Regions from separate parts of the Homo sapiens genome. Here all the other regions are linked to region 5. Evidence: fine-mapped expression QTL. A gene starts in region 5. Each other region holds a variant in brackets. All regions are shown on one strand. Distances are from middle to middle.

What was found. PIP is the estimated chance that this variant, and not a neighbour inherited with it, causes the effect.
Region 1: its variant is fine-mapped to the expression of FOCAD in fibroblasts (GTEx, PIP above 0.99).
Region 2: its variant is fine-mapped to the expression of FOCAD in whole blood (TOPMed, PIP above 0.99).
Region 3: its variant is fine-mapped to the expression of FOCAD in whole blood (TOPMed, PIP 0.96).
Region 4: its variant is fine-mapped to the expression of FOCAD in whole blood (TOPMed, PIP above 0.99).

Annotation. Positions count from the first base shown.
Region 1 is chr9:20,660,863-20,664,915 of GRCh38, forward strand. It overlaps a transcript of FOCAD not described here. Among named protein-coding and RNA genes, the nearest start is that of FOCAD, 21 kb to the right of the region's middle. The variant G/T (reference allele first, on the strand shown) is at 1,788.
Region 2 is chr9:20,714,076-20,718,075 of GRCh38, forward strand. It overlaps FOCAD (focadhesin), which reads left to right. Exons shown (of 44, transcript NM_001375567.1): 2 at 1,247-1,335; 3 at 3,719-3,793. The coding sequence starts at 1,279. It overlaps MIR491 (microRNA 491), which reads left to right and starts at 2,030; the gene lies at 2,030-2,113. The variant A/G (reference allele first, on the strand shown) is at 2,176.
Region 3 is chr9:20,756,459-20,760,458 of GRCh38, forward strand. It overlaps FOCAD (focadhesin), which reads left to right. Exons shown (of 44, transcript NM_001375567.1): 6 at 1,632-1,733. Among named protein-coding and RNA genes, the nearest start is that of SNORA30B, 28 kb to the right of the region's middle. The variant T/A (reference allele first, on the strand shown) is at 1,849.
Region 4 is chr9:20,654,042-20,658,094 of GRCh38, forward strand. It overlaps a transcript of FOCAD not described here. Among named protein-coding and RNA genes, the nearest start is that of FOCAD, 28 kb to the right of the region's middle. The variant G/T (reference allele first, on the strand shown) is at 1,524.
Region 5 is chr9:20,682,643-20,686,692 of GRCh38, forward strand. FOCAD (focadhesin) reads left to right here and starts at 1,617. Exons shown (of 44, transcript NM_001375567.1): 1 at 1,617-1,651. FOCAD-AS1 (FOCAD antisense RNA 1) reads right to left here and starts at 2,108. Exons shown (of 2, transcript NR_121601.1): 1 at 1,926-2,108; 2 at 660-899. RefSeq lists a silencer at 1,220-1,919 and an enhancer at 1,319-2,059.

The DNA.
Region 1 (4,053 bases), 22 kb before region 5:
TATGAGAGGCAGACAGTCAAAGAGAAAGAGAGAGAGAGAGAGCAATTTGGGCAAAAATTATGGGGACATTCCATGACAAGACTGTGATTAAAATGGAGTGGTTGAACATGTTCATAGACCACGGGAAAGGAGTCAGCAGAAGAGGGGAGGTTTAAGACAGAGAGGAATAATTTGAGAAGGGATGTTTTAGAGAAATTAGAGAAGTAGAATTAAGAGCACAGCTGGAGAGCTAAGGAGGCTGTGGAGATGTTTGGCAATGGCAACTGAAAATGATGGCATTCACTCTGATGTTCTTGGTCTTCTCTGAGAAGTACGGAAGCAAAGTTATCTGAAAAATGTGGTAGAGGAGAATGGGTTGGGAGACAACCAAAGACTAGTAAAAGGACTGAGAAGTAGCATGAAGGGCTCAATAGACAGGAGAAACATTGAAATTGTAGTGTCAGCACCACTTAAAGATGTATGATAGTCTCCAATGTGCTGAGTTCTGTAGGAGGAAGAGTAGACAACATGTATTATAAGATTGTCTCAAGACTGGGTTTTGCAGCAGGCTGTGATAGAAAAACCTGACTTGGTTGTGAGGAGTGGGGAAAGGGAGGTGTTAAAAATGAGGGAATTTAAATGGTTGGGAGGCAGTTGTTCACTTGATGGGCCAAGGAGCACAGACTAGGCAGGTAATTAAAGTCTAAGAGGGAACTGTTAAACTGAGATATTCTCAGTGTCCTTCTTTTTCTCACTATCTCTCTTCCTACTGTTTTACATTTTGTCACACTGGGAAAAAGAGGTCAATATTTAGAAAATCAGCCATTGTGTCTAATTTTCATATTGCTAAACATAGGATACATTGAGTACATATTGCTGCAAGCCCTATGGAAGTTAATTCAGTAATACCAGATTACAAAGGCATTTACACTTAGACTCAGAAATTCTACTTCTGTCACTTTATCCTACAGATATACTTAGGCAGGTACAAAATGATGTGGGCAAAAGCACCACTGTTATTAGTAAAAGCTTGGAAACCTCTGAAATGGCCATCAAAAAATGCTGCTGTAAAAGAAAGAATGAGGAAATTCTTTATATATTGACATGAAAAGATAACCAAGATTAAGTGAAAAAAAGGCAAGGTACAAAACAGTGGTAGAGTATGCACCTTTTGTCTATGAAAAATGGGGAATTATGAATATGTATGATATTTGCCTTAGTTGCACAAAGAACTACTGAAAATATCTACAAGTAGTGGATGGGACATGATTTCACAGTAAACTTTTTATATTGTTTTTATTTTTTAAATGTGGCTGTGTTGCTAAACATAAAGTGGAAATATATGTGTGTGTGTGTGCATATATGTGTGTGTGTGTGTGTATAATTACAAGCTACATTGTGATAGCCATGGAGATGCACAGTCCAGATCCCATTACAAGGAATTAATTACTGCCCAGCTGTGGAGAACGTAGTCTGCACAAAAGCCTCCAGCTGTCAGCTCCTTTAGGGTCAGCCTCGGGGGTAAAGAGCCATCTTAGCCAAAGTCATGCCCTTCCCAAGGCAGCTTACATTTGGTGACTGAGAGAAGCAAGGGAATAAAGACTGGGACATTTTAGTCTGGGACAACTCCGAAGGGCAATATTAGCCTCCTAAGCTCCCAGCCAGGGTGACTGGGGACTTTGTCCAGCCTGCATCTGGTTTCAGCTTTTTTCCTGCTCAATTCTGCTTCCTCTCCCCACTCCCCAACACGTTTGACAGATATTTATACCTTTTTATTTCTATTTTTAAATTTTTTTTTTTAGAGGTGG[G/T]GGTCTCATTATATTGCCCAGGCTGGTCTTGAACACCTGGGCTCCCTGCCTTGGTCTCCCAAAGTGCTAGGATTACAGGCGTGAGCCACGGCACCCAGCCAGATATTTATCCCTGATAAACGTCTTGCAACCCAAACTTTGGCTCAGAGCCTGCTTTTGGAAGAGTCAGGAATATATTTTGATAACATTCTAAAGATTTAGTTTTCAATGCATAGTATACTTAATAGAAAAATCAAGACATTTAAACTTAAAGGAATAATTCAAATAACATAATAGAAAATTATTTGTATCCAGTTGTCTTGAGTCTAATGTATTTCAATATAACCTTTTAAAGTTACAGTTTTAACAGTAACACTTATAATGTATCTTATTCTCAGTAAACAAACTATAAAACAAAAGGTTTTTTACTTCTGATAATATCAAGGAACAGTGGCTATGTTTGCAAATTAAATTAGGCTGGGTGTGATAGCTTCATGCCTGTAATCCCAGCTCTTTGAGAGGCTGAGGTGGGAGGATTGCTTAAAGTTAGGAGTTTGAGACCAGCCTGGGCAACATAGTGAGACTGCCTCTACAAAAAAATAAAAAACAAAAAATTAGTCAGACATGGTGGCACATGTCTGTATTCCTGAGCTCAGGAGTTTGAGGTTACAGTGAGCTGTGATCATGCACTGCACTCCAGCCTGAGTGACAGGGAAAGACCCTGTCTGAAAAAACAAGCAAGCAAACAAATAAATAATATAAAAAATTAAGAGGCACTCTTTTCCTTAACGAAATATTTCTATCAGCGGTCCATATTACCTACTACATGTATGCATGTGTGCATGAACACACACACACACACACACACACACACACACATACACACAGTTTATGACTATGTTTGCAATCTTCCAATCTATCATCTATCCTTAATCACTTAATAGACATTTTATTAAATGCTATGCATCAAAAACAATTCTAAGACATGGGCCCTCTTTTCAAAGAATTCAATATAGTTGCCACTTCAATAATGGTACCAGAATGCTTTTAAAATTCTTGTGTGAGGAAAACAATACGTAACCTCAAGCCTGAGACTGCTTCACGTATCACAGTATTTTCTGAAAGACTTTCCTTTTCAGACTTCTGCATTTTCCATTTCTCTAAAACACATTTTCTGTAAAAACCATCTCAAGTATCCTTACAAAGTGTACTTTATATGATATTTTCTCCCAATCTTCATACTTGAACAAATAAACATGTAGGGATTATGTTTCTTTCTATTCTTTATTAATGTCATGAAGTAAATCACTAGTGGATGATGTCTTTTAAACTTGTTTTCCCAGTTACCTATTTTGTGTTGTTATTTTGTCTTAATGAGATCCACTGAGACAGTAAATTTCAAAGCACTTTTCCAACAGTGAAGTGAAAATATCAGCATTGTTGTTTTTATTAATTATTAATGAAATGAATGTATTAACTCTGTTTTCTCCTCAAGATTCTGCAGAAAATCTAATTTTAAAAGTTCTATATTTAAATAACATATGTTTTCCTTTTAAAAAGTTCTATATTTCTAGACCCATATATAAATAAAAAATAGTTTATAGTATTAAATTTATATCTATTTGTGAGACAAGGTTGACTAAGTGATCTGACATATTGACTAAGTGATCTGACATCTAGTATGACCATAGAAACACCTACTTTATTAAAAGAGGTAAAAAGTAATAGTTCAATTAATACTGATTCTATTTAATGGTTCAACAAATCAGACCTCAATTAGAAAGAGCTATTCATTTCTCAGTGCATATTATCTACTAAGCATTTTAAGGGCTCCAAAAACAAGTAGGGCTTCATCAGTCTTTCTGAAGAGTTTATAAGTTTATAATATATTCAAGAGGAATAAGGCAAATAAGCAGGAAGGGAGAGATAAATCCCATAAAGAAGGAACCTTATAGTGGAGAGCTTCAAATGCCAGAGTGATTTCTTTTCTTTTCTTTTCTTTTCTTTCCTTTCTTTTTTTTTTTTTTTCTCATGGAGATGAGGTCTCGCTTTGTTGACCAGGCTGGTTTCAAACTCCTGGCCTCAAGCAATCCTCCTGACTTAGCATCCCAATGTGCTGGGATTACAGGCGTGAGCCATTGTGCCCGGCCCAGGGTGATATCTTAATAATGGTGATGGTTTCAAGAGTTTATACATGTGTCAAAGCTTATTAAATTGTATACTTTAAATACATAAAGTTTAATGTATGTCATATTTACCTCAATAAAACTATTTTTCAAAATACCAG
Region 2 (4,000 bases), 31 kb after region 5:
AAAGTACAGATTGAGTATTCTTTATCTGAAATGCTCGGGACCAGAAGTGTTTTGGATTTGGATTTAAAAAAAAAATTTTTTTTTGGACTATTTGCATATACTTTAAACCGGTTGAAAATCCAATCTGAAAATCCAAAGTGCTCCAATGAGCATTTCCTTTGAGTGTCACGTCAGTGCTCAAAAAGTTTCAGATTTTGTAACATTTTGAATTTTGTATTTTCAGATTAGGGTTGCTCAACCTGCAGTTAGAAAAGGCTGCTAGTTCATTACAATATGCTTTGTTTTTTGAGATCAAGGGAACTTGGTTTTTCTGCTTGTTATAAGTTAATCTAGGGCTGTTTATTGACATAAATTTTAATTTTAATTATATTGTAAAAGTAGGTGACCTAGAGGGCCCTGTTTTTCAAAATAATGTAATTGGTAGGTTCAGTGCTTCATGGAAATGGGATAAATTGGGATCCTTAGGAAATCCTCTTATTAGTTCCATGGTCCTGCTTTACCACCTGCCTTCCCCATCCTTTTGCATGCTTGCCTGCCTGCCTGCCTGCCTGCCTGCCTGCCTTCCTTCCTTCCTTCCTTCCTTCCTTCCTTCCTTCCTTCCTTCCTTCCTTCCTTCCTTCCTTCCTCTCTCTTTCTCTCTTTCACTTTTCTTTTCTTGTGAGCCCAGTAGGAATGATAAGTGAGATATAAATATTAAAAGTTGGTGCTAATTGTTTGCTTGTTCCTCCTTTAGGAAACAGTCTGTTTTAATGTGTGAACTTCTAGGTCTTTTCTATACTTCTTGAAAAAAGTTCACCTAGGCTTCACACTTGTCACTAGCAGTTGGATTAGTGCTTAGATGAAAGCTTGTGCCAAAGTGAGGCATAGATGAAGTAATTTTATGACCGTTTGACTCTTTCTCCCTTATAAGTTTTGATCCACAAAAGAATTAATTTCTATTTCAAATGTGTGGTTGAACTTTTGGATGTTTTTTTCATTTCCGTAGTGCAAATTCATCTTTTTCAGGATTAGCTCTCATGGGAAAAACCAAGAGCTGTTGGGCATTTTTAGTTTATTTATCAATCATGACATTTGAGTGCTGGATGACAATGAAGTTTTGCCAAGGATTACTCTGCAGAGCCCTGTGCTTTATTTCCATTGTTATCTTTGGAATGGATTACATTCACATTATTTGAGGAATAATTAATTGGAGCCCCAATTCAGACCAGTTGGAAGACTAACAAATATTCTTTTGTTTTGGTTACAGAAGCTGCACACATACATGTAAGAGAAGCAAAAATGTCAGATGATATCAGGAAAAGGTTTGAATTTCCAAATTCTCTTATCCAATCACAGGTAATTTTGTTTGTTTATTTTTGCTCATGGTAACAAATAAACCTGTTCTGTGGATTTTTAACTGAACTTTATATATTTAATATTAAATATTTTATTCTACATGTAGAGATTTATATTTTGTGAAACAACTTTAAATATACATTTAATTTGAAAATATATATTTGACATGGAAAGCAAATATTTGAAATTGATCAATCTCAGCTTCTGTTTATATATCATACTTTTCTTCCTAGAGATAATAAAACCTTGATTAACTAGTAGGCCCCTGAATATGTTTGTTTGGTTTTTTTTGGCCTATGATTATTGGGAACAGAGGTAAACAGTTATATGTCTGAAGAGTATGAGGGATTAATATTTAAGAAGACATATCCTACCCCTTATATAGATTTTTATAATAATGATATTTAATAAGTAAAATATCCTGGATTAGAAAATTTGATATATCTACTAAGATAGAAGATTGTGATAACTTTAAAGAGCTTTTCAATAATTAAATAGTTAAAACAAAGATGGCTTTCTGGGTAGCCTTTAGCTAACTAGAAACATTCTGGTTAATCAAGGTATCATAATAGCTTATTGTCTTTTCTTGTGAGAGTAAAGCTAACAGACCAGCAGAAGCCATCTTGAAGACTTAACAACATACAGCACCTTGGATACTTTCAACAATTAACTTCGGAGATGTCTGCTGTGGGAATTGACTTAGCTGGGTAGTGGGGAACCCTTCCATGAGGAGTAGAACACTCCTTATGCAAGATTCCCTTCTACCTGGCTGGGTTGGAGTCATATCCTGCAGGTCCTTACCATGAAGAAGAAGATGAAGGCTTGGAGGATACTATTCAC[A/G]GTTTTATTTTTCTGTGCCTGGAGTCTCTTTGTTAACATAGATAATCAAGAAATGCCCATACGTGTTACTGTTAAATTAGGTGAAAAAAATATATATATATATTTATATTGTTTAGTGTAGGATGGCTATTTGAATTCTGTTATAGAACACTTAAGTAGCAATGTAGGCTGATTTATCCTTGGGTTTTGTATTTTAAAAAATCAGTTTAGGCTAGTATCTCTGATTTGTTAGAAGATGAAGTGAAAAGTATATTAGATAAATTCAACCTGGTGGGGAATGGGGAATTAAGCTTCTCTTCTTTTATTTCTTTTTCTAGATATGAACTATAGCTTTTTCTTTGTCCCTATTGTGTTTCATATTAGTTTTATTAGGTTCTTGTGATTGTGTCCTGTCCTTTGCAAATATTTCTTATTGTTCTTCTGTAACCACTGCTCGATGTTAGCACCATATTTCTTTGATTCACACACGTTTTTTTTCAGATTTTAACATCTTTGAAATTGGATTGCCTCTAGTAATTGATGGCAGCAGTTGAGATACAGTTGGTATTGCCTGCACATTTGTGAACTTGGGCATGATTTTCTACACGAGTCTAAAAGAACTCTTGTGTGACTATAAAACCAAAATTCCGACTTATAAGAAGCACTGTATATCATAGACTAATTGGCAGCCTTTTTTCTTTCTTAGTGGCACACAGTATAATGGTGCAACTTGCAATTCCTGGTCAGTTCCATTCAATGAAATATGGTATGTTTTGTAAAACAGGAGCTCAACCTATCCATGGGTGCTCAGTTCTTATTACTATTCCTTTTACTAGGAGATAAGAGACAGTAAGTTGGACTAAACTTAATATTCATGTAAATGAGTGACTTATATCACAAAACTAGACCACAAGCACCACGGTCTTAAATCAGTTCCAATGTGTGAAATACAAAGAGAAAAATGAGGAAGGAGTGGGTGCTGTGTTTTTATTTGAGCTGTTCTGGAGACTTTGCAGGACTGACAGTTATTCACAGCTATACCGTAATTTGGTCCCAAGTGCAGGATGGACAGTTGTAGCAATAGTGAAGTAGTTTCCAACCCGTACACAGAATGGCAATGATTGTTGCTAGCCTATTGGCTCTAAGACATATTCTTCATATTCGTTAACAGTGTGATGAAGCATGGTGGATTTCGTTTCAGTGCAAAGATGATTTTAAAAACTATGGGCTTTCTCATTCATGTTTTAATGGAGTAAGCAATCTCAAGTTATCTTCTGATACTGACAGCAATTTGAACCAAAAATCTGGCAGTTTTCTTAACCTCTATGCACTATAGTTGCTTATTGGTAACCTGGGATAGATATGCCTACCTTGAGGGCTATTCTGAAGATTAGAAATTGTGCATGTGGAGTGCCTAATTCAATGCCTTCTACATAGCACACACTTAGTTAATGGGAATTTTACTTAATCCTAATTGACTGCCTGGCATACTCATATCAACTAGTATTGATATTTGGAAAGAACTTCTAAGGGACTGTGTTCATTAATTTTATTTCTTTTTAAGGCTGTGGGTCATCTTATTGCTGCAGTCCTAAAGGAAAATGGTTTTTCAGAAAAGATTCACCAATCTACAAATCAGGTCTGTGTTTAACTTTATGCTTTAATTCTCTTCAGATAAGATTGCTACTAGCTGGATCACATATGCACCTGTCTTGTTTCCCTGATAGTTCAGATCACAGTAGAAATGCTTTTGAACTGTGAGAACTTCATTGCCTTTTTTGTTTATTTGTTTGCCTTTTTAATATATAGCAATAAAAAAGTTTTAAATTTATTAAAACCCTCTAGG
Region 3 (4,000 bases), 74 kb after region 5:
TACTTGTAGCAGTTCTGAATCCTGGTAACATATTAAAATTACCTGTAGAATTTTAAAAAATTGCTAGGGGACAAACTTCATTCCTAGCAGTCTAAGATAACAGACCTGGGCATTAGTATTAAGGGCTCTACAGCTAATCTAACTTGCAACCAAGAATAGGAACCACTGCTTTATAGCAGTGCATCAGAATTTCCTGCAGGGCTATTTATTAGGTCTGGGCTAGGGCTTGAGAATTTGCATTTCTAACAAGTTCCCAGTTGATCTTACTAGTAAGGCATCACATTTTGAGAATCACCATGAAGGCAATCTTAAAAAATCATCTGAGTGTAACTGATGGTCTGATTGTTACTCTTTTTTGAAAAATCATTGCTGGAGATATATTAAAATTAAAGACTAGCTCCGTGTATGTGGTTCCTTTTATGCTAAAAAGATTGATATTTCTGTATTGTTTGCATGTTTTTACAATGAGCATTTTAATGTTTTTTTTTGAGATGGAGTTTTGCTCTTGTTGCCCAGGCTGGAGTGCAATAGCATAATATCAGTTCACCGCAACCTCCGCCTCCCAAGTTTAAGTGATTCACCTTCCTCAGCCTCCTGAGTAGCTGGGATTACAGGCATGCGCCACCATTCCCGGCTAATTTTGTATTTTTAGTAGAGACAGGGTTTCTCCATGTTGGTCAGGCTGGTCTCGAACTCCCAACCTCAGGTGATCCACCCATCTTGGCCTCCCAAAGTGCTGGGATTACAGGCGTGAGCCACCGCGTCCAGCCTTAAATCTTATTTAAATATTTTCTTGGAGGAAAAAGCCACATAAATAATAGCTAAAAATTGTATAGTACTTAATAGTTTAAAAAGCTGACCAATTTACAATTATTAGTAGAGTAGCCTTTTTGAACTATTTAAAATAACTCATGGTTGTACTTTTTGTTTTTTTTTGGGGTTAAACCCCATTCTTTGAGAATCCTTCAAATTTCAGATTTTATGTTTTATATAGTCTCTTTAGGTATCTTAATAGAAGTAGCTCAAATAAACGGATTCATCTGCATTCAACAGAAATTTTATGCATCTTCAGTTTGGATAGTTGTTAAGATGGAAGGAATATTTCCTTTTTTCTATTCTTAAATATGCTGGGGAAGCGCAGAACCATACAATGGGAATAATGAAGTACCTGGAAACAGAGAGGGAGAGACAGAGCTTATGGGTTCGGGTAAGGTTGGAGGAAATGGAACTTACCAGGCTTGGAAAGAGAGCAGCGGTAGCAGGAGGAGGAGGTGGCTTGTAACCTCTAGGAATGAAGGATCAAGGGGATGGATATGAGAGAGCTGCTGGATTCAGGAGCTTGGCCAAAGTCACAGAACTGTTAAATGGAAGAGTCCATTCCCAGATTTGGATCTCTGAGGCTCCTGTGTCCATTTTGTTTTCTGCAAAAATGTTAGGAAAAGGCAGGGGGGAGAGTCAGTTCTGATGAACCAACTCTGCAACAAATGGAGCAAGTGATCATTTTGTGACAATTATGAATCGTGAAAAAAGTCTCTAGATGGTAGGTACTGGCTTCTTTGCTGCTATATTTGGATATTGAAAATGTGTAGTCCTGAATAACAGGTTCCCATGTGACTTTCTGTGTCTTTCAGAAATCATCCTCATCCTTTGATAACTGTGCTTGAACACAGACCTGATTGCTGGCCAGTGTTTTTGCAGCAGCTGACAGCGTTTTTCCAGCAGTGCCCTGAAAGGTAATGTAAAATAAAAGTGTAAAATAAAGTGAGGGAGACAGAATGGTATATGCTAATTTTAGAGCTAGGGTTTTTTTTTGTTTGTTTGTTTCTTTTTAGCTGCTTTGATCTATAA[T/A]GTTTTCTCCTGAAGAACCATCCTAGAGCAGGTTGTAGTTTTCTTTTCTTTTTAAATTTAATTTTATTATTATTATACTTTAAGTTTTAGGGTACATGTGCACAATGTGCAGGTAGGTTACATATGTATACATGTGCCATGCTGGTGTGCTGCACCCATTAACTCGTCATTTAGCATTAGGTATATCTCCTAATGCTATCCCTCCCCCCTCCCCCAACCCCACAACAGTCCCCAGATTGTGATGTTCCCCTTCCTGTGTCCATGTGTTCTCATTGTTCAATTCCCACCTATAAGTGAGACTATGCGGTGTTTGGTTTTTTGTTCTTGTGATAGTTTACTGAGAATGATGATTTCCAGTTACATTCATGTCCCTACAAAGGACCTGAACTCATCATTTTTTATGGCTGCATAGTATTCCATGGTGTATATGTGCCAACATAGTGTTGGAAGTTCTGGCCAGGGCAATTAGGCAGGAGAAGGAAATAAAGGGTATTCAATTATGAAAAGAGGAAGTCAAATTGTCCCTGTTTGCAGATGACATGATTGTATATCTAGAAAACCCCACTGACTCAGCCCAAAATCTCCTTAAGCTGATAAGCAACTTCAGCAAAGTCTCAGGATACAAACTCAATGTACAAAAATCACAAGCATTCTTATACACCAATAACAGACAAACAGAGAGCCAAATCATGAGTGAACTCCCATTCACAATTGCTTCAAAGAGAATAAAATACCTAGGAATCCAACTTACAAGGGATATGAAGGACCTCTTCAAGGAGAACTACAAACCACTGCTCAATGAAATAAAAGAGGATACAAACAAATGGAAGAACATTCCATGCTCATGGGTAGGAAGAATCAATATCATGAAAATGGCCATACTGCCCAAGGCCATTAAAAACTACTTTAAAGTTCATATGGAACCAAAAAAGAGCCCGCATTGCCAAGTCAATCCTAAGCCAAAAGAACAAAGCTGGAGGCATCACACTACCTGACTTCAAACTATACTACAAGGCTACAGTCACCAAAACAGCATGGTACTGGTACCAAAACAGAGATATAGATCAATGGAACAGAACAGAGCCTTCAGAAATAACGCCGCATATCTACAACTATCTGATCTTTGACAAACCTGAGAAAAACAAGCAATGGGGAAAGGATTCCCTATTTAATAAATGGTGCTGGGAAAACTGGCTAGCCATACGGAGAAAGCTGAAACTGGATCCCTTCCTTACACCTTATACAAAACTTAATTCAAGATGGATTAAAGACTTACATGTTAGACCTAAAACCATAAAAACCGTAGAAGAAAACCTAGGCATTACCATTCAGGACATAGGCATGGGCAAGGACTTCATGTCAGGTTGTAGTTTTCTATTTTCTTTTAAAGAGTAAAAGAAAAAAATCTACCAGATTTATTGGTTGTTGAAATACTGAATATGAGAAAAGCTGTTATTAAGGAAGTTAAGCATTGGTAAGTGGTTAGGAAAGTTGGCTAGAATAATTCAGTAAGCTACTACACAATACATATAGGAGATAAGTTCTTCCCCTTGGACACTGGCTAATGAGTTAGTCTCTCCATTAGAAAACTGCCATTTGAGATAAAGTATTACTGCCAAGTGGGATCAGATAGCCACCATATGTGCAGTTAGTGTACTTTCACCAAGGCCTCCTGATGGCTCTCAAAGCTACTCCCCTTTCTTCTATCCTTACTACCATGACGCTGGTTCAGGGCCTCAATATCTCTTGATGTGGCTCTTGCCACCTGTTCCTAACTGGTGTCTCTGCCTCCAGTCTTGTCCTGGTCAAATCCAGTCTCTAAACATCCCTCAGAAGGATATATCAAGAGAGCAGATCTTACAGTATCATTCCCATGCTTAAGTCTCTGTGGCTGTGGTTTTCAAACTGCACTTGCAGTGCATGGGCTAAGCATGGAGCATGTTCCCACCCCTTTGGCTCTGTTTTCATAGCACTTACTTGTTGATATCTTATGGAAGCTTTCTATGGGAAAACAAAAAGGATTGGTTTCTGAAACAGTTTGAAATTCCCTGGACTATAGGATAAAATCTAATATGTCATAGTAGGCTTAGTATATGATGCAGTTCCAATCTATCTCACCAGCTTTATCTTTTCTTATCTTCATCTCGCAGTT
Region 4 (4,053 bases), 29 kb before region 5:
TCTCCTGACCTCGTGATCCGCCCACCTCGGCCTCCCGAAGTGCTGGGATTACAGGTGTGAGCCACCCGACCCTAGGCTCCACTTCTAATTATAGTTATCTTGCTATTTCTGCCACATCTGCAGTGATTTCCTCTACTGAAATCTTGAACCCCTCAAAGTCACCCATGAAGGTTGGAATCAACTTTTTCTAAATTGTTCATGTTGATATTTTGACCTCTTCCCATGAGTCACAAATGTTCTTAATGGCATATATAATGGTTAACCCCTTCCAGAAGGTTTTCAATTTACTTTGCCGAGATCCACCAGACAAATTACTATCTATGGCAGCTGTAGCTTTACAATAACGATAGTAATAATAAAAGAGTTGAAAACTGAAATTACTTCTTGATCCGTGGGCTGCGGAATAGATGTCGTGTTAGCAGGCATAATAGTAACATTCATCTCCTTGTACATCTCCATCACAGCTCTTGTGTAACCAGGTACATTGTCAGTGAGGATGAAAGGAATCTTTTTTTTTTTTTTTTTCCTGAGCAGTAAGTCTTTACACGGGGCTTAAAATATTCGGTAAACCATGCTATAAACAGAAGTGCTGTCATTCAGGCTTTGTGATTTCACTTATAAAACAGTGGCAGAATGGATTTAGCATCATTTTTAAGGGCCCTAAAATTTTCAGAATAGTAAGTATGCATTGGTTTCAAATGAAAGCCATCAGCCCCTAACAAGAGGGTCAACCTGTCTTTTGAAGCTTTGAAGCAAGGCACTGACTTCTCCTCTTTAGCTATAAAATTTCTAGATGGCATATTCTTTCAATGGAAAGGTGTTTCATCTACACTGAAAATATGTTGTTTAGTGTTCCTCCTTCATCAGTGATCTCAGCTAGATCTGGATAATTTGCTGCAACTTTTACATCAGCACTTGCAGCTTCACTTTGCACTTTTATGTTTTGAAGATGACTTCCTTCTTTAAACTTCATGAACCAATCTGCTAGCTTCTAAATTTTCTTCTGCACCTTCCTCATGTGTCTCAGCCTTCATAGAATTGAAGAGAGTTAGAGCCTTGCTCTGGATTAGGTTTTGGCTTTAGAGAATGCTGTGGCTGGTTTGATTTTATATCCTGACCGCCAAAACTTTCTCCGTATCAGGAACGAGGCTGTTTTGCTTTCTTAGCATTCATGTGTTCACTGGAGTAGCTCTTTTTAATTTTCCTCAATAACTTTCCCTTTGCATTCACAATTTGGCTAACTGATGCAAGAGGCCTAGCTTTCAGCCTACCATGGCTTTTGAGATGCTTAATCGTTTTTAGCTTTTGATTGCTAGTGAGGGATGAGTGACTCTTCTTTTCACTTGAACGTTTAGAAGTCTTAGGGTTATTGGTCTAATTTCAATATTGTTATTTCTCAGGGAATAAGGAGGCCTGAACAAAGGGAGAGAGATGGGGGAATGTCTGATCTGTGGAAGCGTGGAACAATCAGGACACACACAACATTTCTCAATTAAATTCAAGTCTTCTAGGGTGTGGTTTGT[G/T]GTGCACCAATGCAATTGCAAGAGTAACATCAAAGATCACTAATCACAGATAGCCATAAGAGATAAGACATTTTTTATTGTGTCTATTAAATTCTTCTCTCTTTTTTTCTTTATTAGTCTTGCTAGCGGTCTATCAATTTTGTTGATCCTTTCAAAAAACCAGCTCCTGGAGTCATGACTTTTTTGAAGGGTTTTTTGTGTCTCTATTTCCTTCAGTTCTGCTCTGATTTTAGTTATTTCTTGCCTTCTGCTAGATTTTGAATGTGTTTGCTCTTGCCTTTCTAGTTCTTTTAATTGTGATGTTAGGGTGTCAATTTTAGATCTTTCCTGCTTTCTCTTGTGGGCATTTAGTGCTATAAATTTCCCTCTACACACTGCTTTGAATGTGTCCCAGAGATTCTGGTATGTTGTGTCTTTGTTCTCGTTGTTTTCAAAGAACATCTTTATTTCTGCCTTCATTTTGTTATGTACCCAGTAGTCATTCAGGAGCAGGTTGTTCAGTTTCCATGTAGTTGAGCGGTTTTGAGTGAGATTCTTAATCCTGAGTTCTAGTTTGATTGCACTGTGGTCTGAGAGATAGTTTGTTATAATTTCTGTTCTTTTACATTTGCTGAGGAGAGCTTTACTTCCAAGTATGTGGTCAATTTTGGAATAGGTGTGGTGTGGTGCTGAAAAAAATGTATATTCTGTTGATTTGGGGTGGAGAGTTCTGTAGATGTCTATTAGGTCTGCTTGGTGCAAAGCTGAGTTCAATTCCTGGGTATCCTTGTTGACTTTCTGTCTCGTTGATCTGTCTAATGTTGACAGTGGGGTGTTAAAGTCTCCCATTATTATTGTGTGGGAGTCTAAGTCTCTTTGTAGGTCACTCAGGACTTGCTTTATGCATCTTGGTGCTCCTGTATTGGGTGTATATATATTTAGGATAGTTAGCTCTTCTTGTTGAATTGATCCCTTTACCATTATGTAATGGCCTTCTTTGTCTCTTTTGATCTTTGTTGGTTTAAAGTCTGTTTTATCAGAGACTAGTATTGCAACCCCTGCCTTTTTTTGTTTTCCATTTGCTTGGTAGAGCTTCCTCCATCCTTTTATTTTGAGCCTATGTGTGTCTCTGCACGTGAGATGGGTTTCCTGAATACAGCACACTGATGGGTCTTGACTGTTTATCCAATTTGCCAGTCTGTGTCTTTTAATTGGAGCATTTAGTCCATTTACATTTAAAGTTAATAGCGTTATGTGTGAATTTGATCCTGTCATTATGATGTTAGGTGGTTATTCTGCTCGTTAGTTGATGCAGTTTCTTCCTAGTCTTGATGGTCTTTATATTTTGGCATGATTTTGCAGCGGCTGGTACCGGTTGTTCCTTTCCATGTTTAGCGCTTCCTTCAGGAGCTCTTTTAGGGCAGGCCTGGTGGTGACAAAATCTCTCAGCATTTGCTTGTCTGTAAAGTATTTTGTTTCTCCTTCGCTTATGAAGCTTAGTTTGGCTGGATATGAAATTCTGGGTTGAAAATTCTTTCCTTTAAGAATGTTGAATATTGGCCCCCACTCTCTTCTGGCTTGTAGGGTTTCTGCCGAGAGATCCGCTGTTAGTCTGATGGGCCTCCCTTTGAGGGTAACCTGACCTTTCTCTCTGGCTGCCCTTAACATTTTTTCCTTCATTTCAACTTTGGTGAATCTGACAATTATGTGTCTTGGAGTTGCTCTTCTCGAGGAGTATCTTTGTGGCGTTCTCTGTATTTCCTGAATCTGAACGTTGGCCTGCCTTGCTAGATTGGGGAAGTTCTCCTGGATAATATCCTGCAGAGTGTTTTCCAACTTGGTTCCATTCTCCCCATCACTTTCAGGTACACCAATCAGACGTAGATTTGGTCTTTTCACATAGTCCCATATTTCTTGGAGGCTTTGCTCATTTCTTTTTATTCTTTTTTCTCTAAACTTCCCTTCTCGCTTCATTTCATTCATTTCATCTTCCATTGCTGATACCCTTTCTTCCAGTTGATGGCATCGGCTCCTGAGGCTTCTGCATTCTTCACGTAGTTCTCGAGCCTTGGTTTTCAGCTCCATCAGCTCCTTTAAGCACTTCTCTGTATTGGTTATTCTAGTTATACATTCTTCTAAATTTTTTTCAAAGTTTTCAACTTCTTTGCCTTTGGTTTGAATGTCCTCCCGTAGCTCAGAGTAATTTGATCGTCTGAAGCCTTCTTCTCTCAGCTCATCAAAGTCATTCTCCATCCAGGTTTGTTCCGTTGCTGGTGAGGAACTGCGTTCCTTTGGAGGAGGAGAGGCGCTCTGCTTTTTAGAGTTTCCCGTTTTTCTGTTCTGTTTTTTCCCCATCTTTGTGGTTTTATCTACTTTTGGTCTTTGATGATGGTGATGTACAGATGGGTTTTTGGTGTGGATGTCCTTTCTGTTTGTTAGTTTTCCTTCTAACAGACAGGACCCTCAGCTGCAGGTCTGTTGGAATACCCTGCCATGTGAGGTGTCAGTGTGCCCCTGCTGGGGGGTGCCTCCCAGTTAGGCTGCTCAGGGG
Region 5 (4,050 bases):
AATACTGGTGCATTTGGAAGACTGAAAGAGAGTATCATCAAAGTCCATAAAAAGGGAATTATAAGCCTTATAAAACTCCTTTGAAGCAAAGGATAACAGAGGTTGAATAACTTTAAGTAGGTTCAATATTGATTGATTGAATGATTGATTGTGACAGTCTCACTCCATCAGAGGCTGGAGTGCAGTGGCGCCACCTCGGCTCACTGCAACCTCCGCCTCCCGGGTTCAAGCGATTCTCCTGCCTCAGCCTCCTGAGTAGAGTAGCCGTGACTGCAGGCGCGCAACCCCACGCCGGGCTAATTTTTGTATGTTTTTTTTAGTAGAGATGGGGTTTCACCACGTTGCCTAGGCTGGTCTTGAACTCCGCCCTCCTCGGCCTCCCAAAGTGCTGGGATTACAGGTGTGAGCCCCCCCACCTGGCCCCAAGATTAATTTAGATAAATTCTTAGAGGGTGAATGCATAGTTGGTTATTGGGAAAACTGTTAACGGTCTGTGATACATAATTACTTTTCTGAGGTGATGGGGAACCAAATTCTTCCTACAAATGAGAAACAGAACTTCTTGTCTACACATTAAAATGACTTTGGAAACTTAGAAAAATATCAATGTCAAGATCTGGCAGCAGACCTTTTTCAACCAAGTGATGAGGCCCAGGCACTTGTTTTTTTATTTTTATTTTTTCCTAAGGGTGCCCCAGGGTTTAGAAACAACTAAGTCAGATATTTTTAGAGTAATTTGTCTTAACTCTTTCATCTTGCGTAAAATTTCCATTCTGTCATCCACAACCGGAATTCCACTCCGTCATACCAGTCTCTCCTCGTTTTTTTCTGCTGGCTCTTTTCAGCGTGTTTCATCGTGGCTGCTGTCTGTCTGTTACAGCCTTCTCACGTGGGAGCCCCTGCCCCGCCCCACGAGAAAATACATGTTTATCATTCAGTAAGTATTGCGCAAAATCGTAACAGAATAATTACTCGCGCCAATTCCCCCCAGATTAGATCAGCAGAAACACTTGGGCTAGAACTACCTCAGGACTATCTAACAAGTGGATATACCACAGTGGCGTGGAGAGCTGCAGTGTTATGTGTTGGCCAAATGAAGTAAAGACACCAAGTAGCTATTAGGCGAAGAACGAAGCGTCTTCGCGGCAAGTCGGCTGTCTGCTTTAAATTTTCTGAATCCTTAATGTTATCAGTATTATTTATTTCCCCCGAGAAACAAAATCTCCAAATACCAAGAAGCTGTTCTGTATTGCCAAAAGCTGCATAGGGGCAGGCTGCCAACAGGACTACCCGGGCACGCTGCAGTGGCATCTCTAGGCAGTTTCCTTTAATCTGATTTTCCTTGGGCTAACTCCTCACTGCGGTGCTGCTCCACAGCCAGCCCCCGCGCGCAGCCCTCCCCGCACCAGCTCGGCTGCAGAGCGCGGGTCCGCCGCCCACGCCGCCTTTCAACCGCAGTGCGCGGCCCGGGCCTTAGACGCGCGTGCGCGCGAGCCGGGGAGGGCGGGCCCCAGCCGGAGGAGGCGGAACAGGGCCTCGCGATATGCAGCCCATTGGCTCTCTCCTGCAGTCCCCGCCCCCGGGCGTTCGAGGCGGCGGGGCGGGCCACGTCAGGCAGCCGGCGCTGGGCTGAGCTTGTGGCAGAAGGGAGGTAAGCCGTGCGGGGCGGCGGGCTGCCACCGCTGCACCCCTGCTCGGGAGCCGCCGGGTCGCGCCGCCTGCGGCCCGGTCGGCTTGCATGGAGGGCGGCTGAGGCCCTGCGGGGCTGGGGCTGAGCTGGGAGACGGGGCAGTGGAGCATGTGGCGGCAGGGCCGCGTCGCGGCGAGGGGCAGCCGGGAGGGGGCTTTTTGCCCTCGTCCGGTCCTGCTGGGGCTCTCAGCTTCTGGAGGACTAGGCCTTCTGAGGTTACGGAGCTCCGAGATACCTGGGCAGGGCTGGCTGTGGTGACTGCGGTGGGACTTAGTGGGATCTCGACTCGGAAGCCGGTCGGCGCGATCCTTGCATACTTAGCTGCAGCAGGTTGCAGTCGTCCCACTCTCCTTCGACCGGTTCCCTAGTTGGGGGCAGAGCAGGAGATTCTGGCCGCGTCCTGCCTGGCCTGGGGTGACTGTCTCCTTCTCATTCCCGGTGACTCACTCAGATCATGTCCACTTATAATGCAAAGGCTTATGGGTGAGCAGGGCCTGTTTTCAGTCTCCTAGTTCTCTGGCTCCGTCCGCACTTGCGGCAATTACTTGAAGAAAGAGTATGTTAGATGTATGTTTTGAAATTTTCGCAGCAGCTAACGCGTGGAGACGTGCAGTTATGTTGCATTTACCCTTCATGAGTTTTAGTTTCAGCTGTGGCGTCCTGATATCTCAGTGTGGTTCCTGAATTTGGAGCTTTTGAAATGAATGAAATCCTGCCAATTTCATGCAGTCATTCATTCATACATTCCAAACTTTTTTGATGGATGCCTTAATGGTCAGCCTCATACCAGGTATTAAAATCGGCATTTCCTGCGTTTTATTCCAGTTTATATGTTAGTTTTATTGTCTAGATTTGAGTTGGAAATTTTTTTTTTTTTTGTTATTTTCAGGTTCTAGTATCCCTGAAACCATCGTGGCTCTGAGGGTGTAATCCTGATAACTGTATCAGTAATGACTCCAGGTTTCAGTGGCCTATCTGTAAGAAGAGGAATGGGATTAGTATAATTTTGAGATTTTCCAGGAGAGGAGGGTAGATGGCATGTTTCCTGAACTGTGTTAACAGGAAGTAACTATTTTAAAAACACAGGATGCATTTTATGATTATGTTTTACTGTGTCAACGAACATTGTATCTGTCCACATTCACTTTTTGACTACCAAGCAAGTGCATGTTTACAATTTTGATTCACATCCAATTCCTGCGTAGAAAGCACTGTGACTCATCTGAATTTTGAAATGAAGTAATCATGAGCTTTTTAATGTTACATACAAAGGTATGATATTGAAACAATTGCATAAAAATGCAATTTTCAAAGCATTTTCACTTGCTTTTATAGATTAGTGGAAGCTAAAACCTCTGCCTTGATTATTTGCTTACTTAATCAATGTTAGGTAGTTACCATCTCTTGGCTAATGTTTATCAATATTATATCTATTTTAACATTTGTTTCATTAACCCCAAATTTACTGGATTTTAACTGATTGTTGTCTCCAGTTGACGCCTGATAACCAAAAGGTTATCAGGAGGAGCTGGAGGAGGCGGAACACAGCCTCGCGCCCTGTAATAAATAGTTTGAAATCAAAATTTTCATGGACGTATAACCAGAGTTTTTCATTTGTTGATTGATTGATGGTGCTTACCGGTAAATCGTTTGGCCTTTTTCCCCGTTTAAAATGATTTATGAAACAGTCTGAGACATAATATTCTTAGCTTCATGATACTTTTGGGATATTGTCCACAAGTGATTAGTTGAATTAAATTGTTAATATCACTATTAGGAGTTTGGAAAATTTAAGAAAATATAACTTCTTAAAATTTTGCATTTGCTATTTTTTTGTTTGTTTGGAGACAGGGTCACTCTGTCGCCCAGGCTGGAGTGCAGTGCTGCGATCTCGGCTCACTGCAACCTCCGCCTCCCAGGTTCAAGTGATTCTTCTGCCTCAGCCTCCTAAGTAGCTGGGATTACAGGCGCATGCCACCACACCCAGCTAATTTTTGTATTTTTAGTAGAGACGGAGTTTCACCATGTTGGCCAGGCTGGTCTCGAAATCCTGACCTCAAGTGATCCCTCCGCGTTGGTGTTACATCTTTCAGTTCTAGAAATGGACCTGATCAAGATTGCAAGGTTAATGGGGAAAATTCAAGAGCTGAGGACATTAACCTTCTAGCGGGAAAAAACCACAATGAGAAATAATAACTATATTTGGAGGAAGTGTAAGGAAATAATAGTTTAAGGATTATTAGTCTATAACAAATCTTGATCTTAATCAGTATTTCTTGATGTATAACAAAGAACTTGGTTTAAGCACAAAAAGAAAATTAGGGTGATAATTTAAATTTTGATCAAGTGGGTAGTAAGTA